Regions from separate parts of the Homo sapiens genome. Here region 1 is linked to region 2. Evidence: fine-mapped expression QTL. A gene starts in region 2. The other region holds a variant in brackets. All regions are shown on one strand. Distances are from middle to middle. Region 1 holds the start of CMTM5 (CKLF like MARVEL transmembrane domain containing 5). Region 2 holds the start of SLC22A17 (solute carrier family 22 member 17).

The links. PIP is the estimated chance that this variant, and not a neighbour inherited with it, causes the effect. A credible set is the group of variants that fine-mapping cannot tell apart.
Region 1: its variant is the best candidate, but not a certain one, in a credible set for the expression of SLC22A17 in subcutaneous fat (TwinsUK, PIP 0.70).

What each region holds. Positions count from the first base shown.
Region 1 is chr14:23,373,225-23,377,224 of GRCh38, reverse strand. It overlaps IL25 (interleukin 25), which reads right to left. Exons shown (of 3, transcript NM_172314.2): 2 at 3,829-4,000; 3 at 822-1,600. The coding sequence ends at 1,345. It overlaps CMTM5 (CKLF like MARVEL transmembrane domain containing 5), which reads right to left and starts at 179. Exons shown (of 6, transcript NM_001288746.2): 1 at 1-179. The variant G/A (reference allele first, on the strand shown) is at 2,190.
Region 2 is chr14:23,350,352-23,354,871 of GRCh38, reverse strand. SLC22A17 (solute carrier family 22 member 17) reads left to right here and starts at 1,985. Exons shown (of 10, transcript NM_016609.7): 1 at 1,985-2,226; 2 at 2,421-2,924; 3 at 3,017-3,120. The coding sequence starts at 2,131.

The DNA.
Region 1 (4,000 bases), 23 kb before region 2:
CTACTGCCAAAAGCCCAGCAAGAGAAACAGAAATCTGGCAGGATGGGGAAACAGACAGGAGCAAGAAGGCACTTCGAGAAACCTGAAAGTGAAGCAGGAGGCTTGCCCACAGGGCCCCGGGAGAGAAGGCAGGCGCTGGGGGCCTTGCCCAGATGGGCCCTCACCCAGCTGCCCAGAGTGCCTCTGCTGCTGCCTGCACCAGCCCCCTAGAGACCCATGGGGAGGGGCAGAGAGGAAGGAGGCTCTAATCCCTCCCCTTGCTTAGAGCCCAACCCAGCCTGGAATAGAGAAGGAAGGGGAGAGGAGGAGGTCCGAAAAGAAACTGGGAGGAGCTGGGATGTGAGTAGAGGAACAGGGGCAGGACTGGGAGCCCCCAGGGACCTAAGCCTGAAGACATTTGTGTCCCCCTTCTCTAACCTTAACCCTCTTGTTTGGCCGGTCCTTTCTCCCATTTCCTTTTAGGGAGGGTGTGAGCTGGAGCCCAGCCCAGGCAGCACCCCCAGGACCAAGCTGCAGCAGCCAGGACTGGAGGACAAAGGCGGATTGTTGGGGGACAAGGGGGCGCTCTGTGCCTGCTGCAATGCCTCAATGGGCCTCTGTCTCTCCAGCATGCCGGGAGCGCGGCCTAGCCCCCACCCTGGTGTTTGGGATGGGCCAGGGAGACAGAGATGGGAGAGGACGGGAGGGTGCAGCGGAAACTCTGGAGGGCGGAGAGAGCTGGCAGGGTGGACAGAGGTGAGGGCCAATGGTGGAAAGGAGAAGGGACAGGCTGGGAGACCGCGAGATGTTCAGGCACCACGGATGCCAAATACAGATTAGGCCATTTTTAAATAAAGATATTTATTTGGATAAATCTCTATACATTCAATAACAGCTTCCTCCTCAGAATCATCCATGTCAAAAGACTAGTAACTACACTAGAATGCACCCAAAGTAGATGCTCACTGAGTGATGAGTAAACAAACAAATAAAACCAGGGGCTCTTTCTTCTCCAGCAAGGGGGAAATATCTAGAAAGTGCCTGTGCTGGGCCAGGGTAGCAGGGGATGGGAAAAGAGGAAGAGACAGGAGTGGTGGCCTCCAGAAATGGGCAGAACTTTGAAAACCTTTCCTGAGAGAAAATGACAGGACACCAGCTTCCGGCGGCCCTAAGCAGCAGCTGCTCTTTTCAAAATGTGCAGAAGTGCAGGCTTTCCCCAAAGCCCCCCATCCTGTCCCGGGATCCTGCTGCTCCAGACAGCACTTCACAGGGGCCAAGCATCTGGGCATCCTGGCCCTTCATGGCAAGTGGTTGTACACCTGGCTCCAGGTTTCCCAAAAAGGGACCAGCCTCCAGCAGGTCCGGCTAGCCCATCACACGGGGCCGCACACACACACAAGCTAAGGAAACACGGTACAGCCTGCGCTCCAGGCAGTAGCCCTTGTGGGTGCCCTTCTCGCCATGGCATGGCCGCCGGTAGAAGACAGTCTGGTTGTGGTAGAGCAGCTCCGAGTTGCCCCGGGGGTCCATGTGGGAGCCTGTCTGTAGGCTGACGCAGTGCGGGCACAGGCAACGGGCGTGGTACAGGTCCTGGGGGAGCCGGTTCAAGTCTCTGTCCAACCTGTGGGGGCGGCACTTGTCAGGCCTTGGAAAGATGGGCCGGAAACAGAGAGGGTGGGGTGGCATGGGAGTGCCAGAAGAAGGAAATGGTCCGTCTGGGGCCTTGGCCTCTTGTCTCAGTTCTGAACCCACTTGCTGTGTAACTTTGAACAAGTCACCTCCCTCCTTTATTAAATTTTCCCCACTGTAAATGAGGGTAGCAGGTGACAGAGTGCTTTCCAACTGGTCCTGGGACCGTGAGGGAGGCAGGGGAGGGTGAGCAGGCTCCTGCCTTAGCCTCCATTGACCAGCACTGCTTCTATCTGACTCAGCATGAGGTTTCTTATTGTAATGATTACACTTTAGGTGTTTTTGTTTGTTTTTTGATTTTTTGTTTTTGTTTTTTTGAGACGGAGTACCCAAGCTGGAGTGCAGTGGCACGATCTTGGCTCAACTGCAACCTCTACCTCCTGGGTTCGAGCGATTCTCCTGATGCCCGCCACCATACCCAGCTAATTTTCATATTTTTAGTAGAGATGGGGTTTCATGATGTTGGCCATGGTTGGCCAGGCTGGTCTTGAACTCCTGACCTTAGGTAATCCACCCACCTC[G/A]ACCTCCCAAAGTGCTGGGATTACAGGCATGAGCCACCGGGCCGGACTTTAGGTGGTGTTTCTATTATTATTATAGCATTATTGCAAAAGTAAAAACCACTCTGACATCCAAGTATTAAAGAGTATAAAGAGTGAAAGTTAATAGTCTCTCCCTACCAGCCCCACTCCCCAGAAGAAGCTATCCTCAACTATTTCCTGCACATTCTTCCAGACGCTGTGCAAGCTTATATTATAAGCATACTTGAGAGTGCATGGGAAGACTTATTTACTTATTCTGAAAGGATTTCATGGCAAAAAAAAAAAAAGAAAGAAAGAAAGAAAGATGAAAAACACTGAAAAGTAGATGTCCCACAGGTCTGCGACTCCATTAGTCTGGCAGGCGACAGTCTCCAGCTTGTGGGACCATTCCCCACACAGACAAGCCCTGGCAAATGGAATTAGCTAGCACATCACTTCCCAAAGTGGGTTCCCTAATAAATCACCTGCACCTGTTGGGTGCTTAAATGAATTTGGGAAACACCAGTTTAACGGTTTACTTTCTACAGACTTCTTGCAGACTTTAATGTACAATGACAGTATGAATCTCCAAGGGGTAGGAGATACAGCAGTCTTTCCCAAGTTTACCTGGCATCACTTTTTTCTGAGAAGCAGCTCATGGGATGAGCATTGCACAGAACACACTTTGGGGAAAGCCACCTGAGTGGTTCTCGGGTTCACAGACTCCCAGCAAGGGGTCTGGAAGACAGCTGAGTTAACCTCTGGCACCCGCCTCCCCTAAGAAGCTCCCATGCCATCTGATTTGGCCCAGGACCCAGCCAGCTTCTGAGACCACTCCAAAGAGTCATGACCTGTAGTGTCCACACTAGATCCAATCTCAGTTAGATCTGACCCCCTCCCCACCACTGAACTTCTCCATCTACCCCCAAAGCCAATGCTAAGACAGAACTAGAAGGAAGAAGTGAAATCACATGTCTGGAATCCCTAAGACCCTAGTTTTTAATATTTTGCTTCATCATTCATATTTCAGCACTTCCTAATATTTTTCATATCATGGCACAAATAGAGAACTATAATATTTATGTGGCACACTGAGTGAAAGAATACAGTACCCATGATCATGATCAAAGATATCCAGTCCACAGCTCCAGCCAGCCAGCTGCCCCCAAAAGTTAAGGGTTTCACTCCTTTAGTATGCTTATAACTAACCCATTCATGGCCAGGGCAGTATCAATTGGTATTGGGATGCTTCATGCCTGTATCATGCCATTATTCCCTAATATTTTACCCAGAAAAAACATGGGCCATTATAGGGATGTTTTAAAAGAAAAGGAGAGAACCAACATAAATACAGACTTTTACATACATTATATTTCATTTGATCTGCACATTAGCCTATGGGGCATTATATCATTTTGCAGGTGAAAAAAAAAAAAACCCTGAGTTTTGAAAACTTGAATTGACTCAAGATCATCCAATGAGAGTCAGAGCTAGGACTCAAATACAGACCTTGTCTAACTCCCAAACCTTTACAGCCCCTCTGAGATCAAAATGGGAAAGTAAGCTGGAATTGCCCTGGTCCCTCACGCATACCCTGGCCAGCACACACAGGGCAGGCATTCGGGAGGGGCAGCAGACTCACTCATATCTCCAGGGGGAGATGGCCCTGCTGTTGAGGGGTCCATCTTCACTGGCCCTACAGGACTCTGGGTGGCGGTTGGGCCTAGCAGGCTCTAGGGGAGGCACAGGCACAGTGCTCCACCTCAGCAGCTCCTCAGAGGTGTCCTGCCCTTTGCTGGGGCAGCAGCTGGGCC
Region 2 (4,520 bases):
TGTGGTTCAGTGGAGAGAAGGGGGAAAGATTTCCCGGCTGACAATGATAGAACACTGCTTTCTAGCCCTTACCTAGGATTAGAGAATAAAGTACCTATCAGGTAACAAATCTCTTAGAGATGTGTGTCTCTACCTTTAATGTATAATACCTATGCCTGGAGATCTGGATAAAATACAGATTATGATTCAAGGGTCTGGGTGAGGCTTGGATTCTGCATTTCTAACAAGCTCCCAGGAATGCTGCTGGTCCATGAACCACACTTTGAGTAGCAATTCTAGAGGTTAGGGAAGACTCCTGTGTAGCAAAGATGTTTAGGCTGAGAGCTGAAGGATGAGAAAAATGTGACTAAGAAGCTTTTTAGGTGCAGGAACCAGCTTGTTCAAAGGCCTCGTGGCGCTGGGAAAACTAGAAGAAGGTCTGTGGCTGGAGTGCAGAGAGTTTGGGGAAAGAAGTGAGATGGAACTACAGACAGCATGTGACCAGGCATGTAGAACCATGTATGAGGTATCTAGATTTTTAATATTCACTTTGACAGTGAGGAGACACCACTGAAGGCTGGTTAGCAGGAAAGATACATGATCAGATCTGTATTTTGAAAAGATCATTCTATCTGACTATAAATGACATATGGGTGATAAGGAGGTATAAACAAAGCGGACGCTGAACACCAGTTAGGAATTAGGGAGCTAAAGTGGTCTTTGCAACAGGTAGCTTGACTAATAATGGTAGAGATGGAGAGATGTGGGATGTCTGAGAATATATAGGAAGTAAAATGGGCAGAATTTTGTAAAGAATTCAACATGGATAAGGAAGAGAAAGCTCTAAAGGCTGTTGCCTGAGCATTTGGCCACAATGCGATGTTGAGGGTGCCATTCGCTGCAGAAAAAAGCAGTGGAAGCCAACCAAGTTATGGGGGAAAAGCAAAAATTTCGTCTTGAACATATTGAGTTTGAGGTCCCTGTGAGTCATCCAAGGTGAAGGTCAAATAAGAGGTGGCTTCATAGGTCTGGAGCTCAGAACAGAGGTGGAAGCTGGAGATGTCAGTCTGGGCGTCAGGTTTGTATTGTTTGTATGGGTGGTGATTGAAGCTGTGGGCATAGGTAAGATCCCAAAGTGGAGACAGTGTGAGATGAGAGGAGGGCCTAGGACTAAGTCTGTGAGGATTCCAGACACTGAACCATGGTGTCTAAATGATACAGACGGGAATGGCCCTAGAAGCCAGCACCACAGCCTCATCACTACCAATACAGACCCCTCCTGCAGTTGCGTCACCCCGCTGGACTTCAATCATTGCCTCAAGAACCGGGAGGATAATGGCCTGCCCATGCTCAGCACCAATGCCATGAGCTGGAAGACGATTTCTGCAATGGAGAAAAGGGGAGCAAGAGAGACTCAGCAGCAAAGGAAGAGAGTGTTTAGAGGAAGAGGGGTCAACAGTGCCAAATGCTGTTGAGAAATGGAGATTCAAACAGGATGGGAGTGATGAAACCCAAGAAAGTGGTCTCCTTGTAGAGGACTGAAGCTAGGGCTGATACAGGGCCAAGACAGTCTTCCATATGCATAAGTTGTACTGTAATAGCCAGTTTACATGTCTGTCTCCCTGGAGTAAAGGTCTCCAAAGTGGAACTTGTCCACCCTGTTATCCTTAAAGTCTAGTGCAAGTCCTGGAACGTAGTGGACACTTAAATTTTACTGATTAGTGAATGGGTGAATGAATGAATGAATGAATGATGGCAAATGATTGGAAGCAGAGGAAGAATCTCTGGCATCTGCCTGGACTAGCTACTATCCTTCAGCTTTTTTTCTTTTTTACCGCAATGGCCCGCAGACCCAGGAAAGAGACGACAGAGCCCCCCTTCCCTCCCTCCCCTGGGCCCTGGCCCCCCTTCCTCTCTCTGACGAAGAGTCTGGACCGAAGGTTCTGCTGACGTGGGAAGGGGAGGAGAGTCTAGAGGAAGGGGAGGGGAAAGCAGCGCAGAGATCGCAGAGACCAAGGAGGCGCCCGCGGCTGCAGAGCTGCAGAGCGGGATCTCTTCGAGCTGTCTGTGTCCGGGCAGCCGGCGCGCAACTGAGCCAGAGGACAGCGCATCCTTTCGGCGCGGGCCGGCAGGGCCCCTGCGGTCGGCAAGCTGGCTCCCCGGGTGGCCACCGGGACCCCCGAGCCCAATGGCGGGGGCGGCGGCAAAATCGACAACACTGTAGAGATCACCCCCACCTCCAACGGAGTAAGTGCCCGAGCCCCAGGTGGCGACGCCATCCTCTCCCAGCACCCCCGCCCCCGCGGAGCGTCTGGCATTTTCCTCCTGCGCATCCCTCGCCCCTGACTGCCTTCCTAGCCCTCCCTCCCACCTGCCCCCTGCCCTTGCTCTGCGGTTTCCTCCGCTTCACCCTTCTCCTGCCACCCCCTGCCCCCCAACAGCAGGTCGGGACCCTCGGAGATGCGGTGCCCACGGAGCAGCTGCAGGGTGAGCGGGAGCGCGAGCGGGAGGGGGAGGGAGACGCGGGCGGCGACGGACTGGGCAGCAGCCTGTCGCTGGCCGTGCCCCCAGGCCCCCTCAGCTTTGAGGCGCTGCTCGCCCAGGTGGGGGCGCTGGGCGGCGGCCAGCAGCTGCAGCTCGGCCTCTGCTGCCTGCCGGTGCTCTTCGTGGCTCTGGGCATGGCCTCGGACCCCATCTTCACGCTGGCGCCCCCGCTGCATTGCCACTACGGGGCCTTCCCCCCTAATGCCTCTGGCTGGGAGCAGCCTCCCAATGCCAGCGGCGTCAGCGTCGCCAGCGCTGCCCTAGCAGCCAGCGCCGCCAGCCGTGTCGCCACCAGTACCGACCCCTCGTGCAGCGGCTTCGCCCCGCCGGACTTCAACCATTGCCTCAAGGATTGGGACTATAATGGCCTTCCTGTGCTCACCACCAACGCCATCGGCCAGGTGAGGCGGCCAGGCGGGCCGCGGGTCTGGGGGCGGGCAGAGAGCGGCGAGGGCGGGGCCTCACGCCCGCTGCACCCTTCTCACATCCCCAGTGGGATCTGGTGTGTGACCTGGGCTGGCAGGTGATCCTGGAGCAGATCCTCTTCATCTTGGGCTTTGCCTCCGGCTACCTGTTCCTGGGTTACCCCGCAGACAGGTGAGGGCTGTCGTGGGGGCAGGGCTGGTAGAAAGGAGGGGGTGCTAGGGAAGCTAACCCAAGCAGCGGGCGTTTACAGGAGGTCGAAGACGATTCGCTGGACTCTGCAGTCTTCTCTGGACTTCTATTCAATGGTCTATCCATGTCTCAACTTCACTCTCCATCAAGAAATACCCCTTCCCTACCTCTTCCGCGCAAGGGAATGACTCGACCTCTATGGACTATTAGTCCCATTCCCACTAATTAGTGGCCCCCTATCCGTGAATCAATGGCCTCATCTCCAAAGAGAATAGTCTCATCCCCACTAACAGCCCACATGGACTGTTCGCTCCATCTCAGTGACCTCATTCCTGAAGATCAATATGTTAATTCCTAAACACCAACAGCTCCATTCCCACTGATCAATAGTTCAACTTCACAAACAAATTACCCCATTTCTGACCAGCGACCCCTCCCCTACAAGTCAACTAACTATCTCCAAAGACAATATCCTCAGACCCAGTAACCCACAGTCCCATGCCTGCCACCAAATGACCCAACGCTCTGTAGGGGAATAGCCCATAGATTAGCAGTCATACCCTCATGGATCCTCAGGGCTTTGAGATCCTCTCACCGAAATCCCCGTTTCCATGAGTCGGTAGCTTCACCTCTAGAGATCAACAACCCAATCCCAGCAACCAATAACTCTTCCCACAGATCAAAAATCTCATCTCTGATTCTGGTCACCTTCACCACTGACCAGATGCTCTCACTGCACTAAACTTCCGATTAGACTCAGCCCCATTGATCCACAGTTCCATCCAAGTGGATTAATAACTCAACTTCTGTGGATCAAAGCCATCCCAACATTCAATAGTCCAGTTCCTTAAAATCAATACCCATCCTCACTGCCCAATAGTCACACACCTCTGTGGGCCAATGATCCGAAACCCACAGGTCAATAGCCCATCCCTATGCATCAGTGGCCTCATTGCCACAGACCAGTAGCCTCATTCCTATGGAACCATGGTTTCATCCCCAAAGATCAATAATTTGGTCTTCTAAAATCTGTAGCCTTCAGCACATTAACCAATAAGCCCATCCTCATGGAAAAATGCCCCACCCCATTAGATCAATAGCCTAACTCCCAGGGATTGGTGCCCCTTTTGCAATGACCAGAGGCTCCCTATCTTCATCTCCATAGATCAATGGTCTTATCCCCAAAGATCAATAGCCCAGCCTCCAAGAATCAGTAACCATGTCTTCACTAACTCATAGTTAGTGACCATAATCACTTACCAATAGTCTCATCTCCCCTGGTCTGTGACCTTATCCTTACTGATTATTCCCATGGATTAATAGATTCATCCCACTGATCAATAGTCCTACCTTATGGATTAATACACCCATGTCTATGTCCC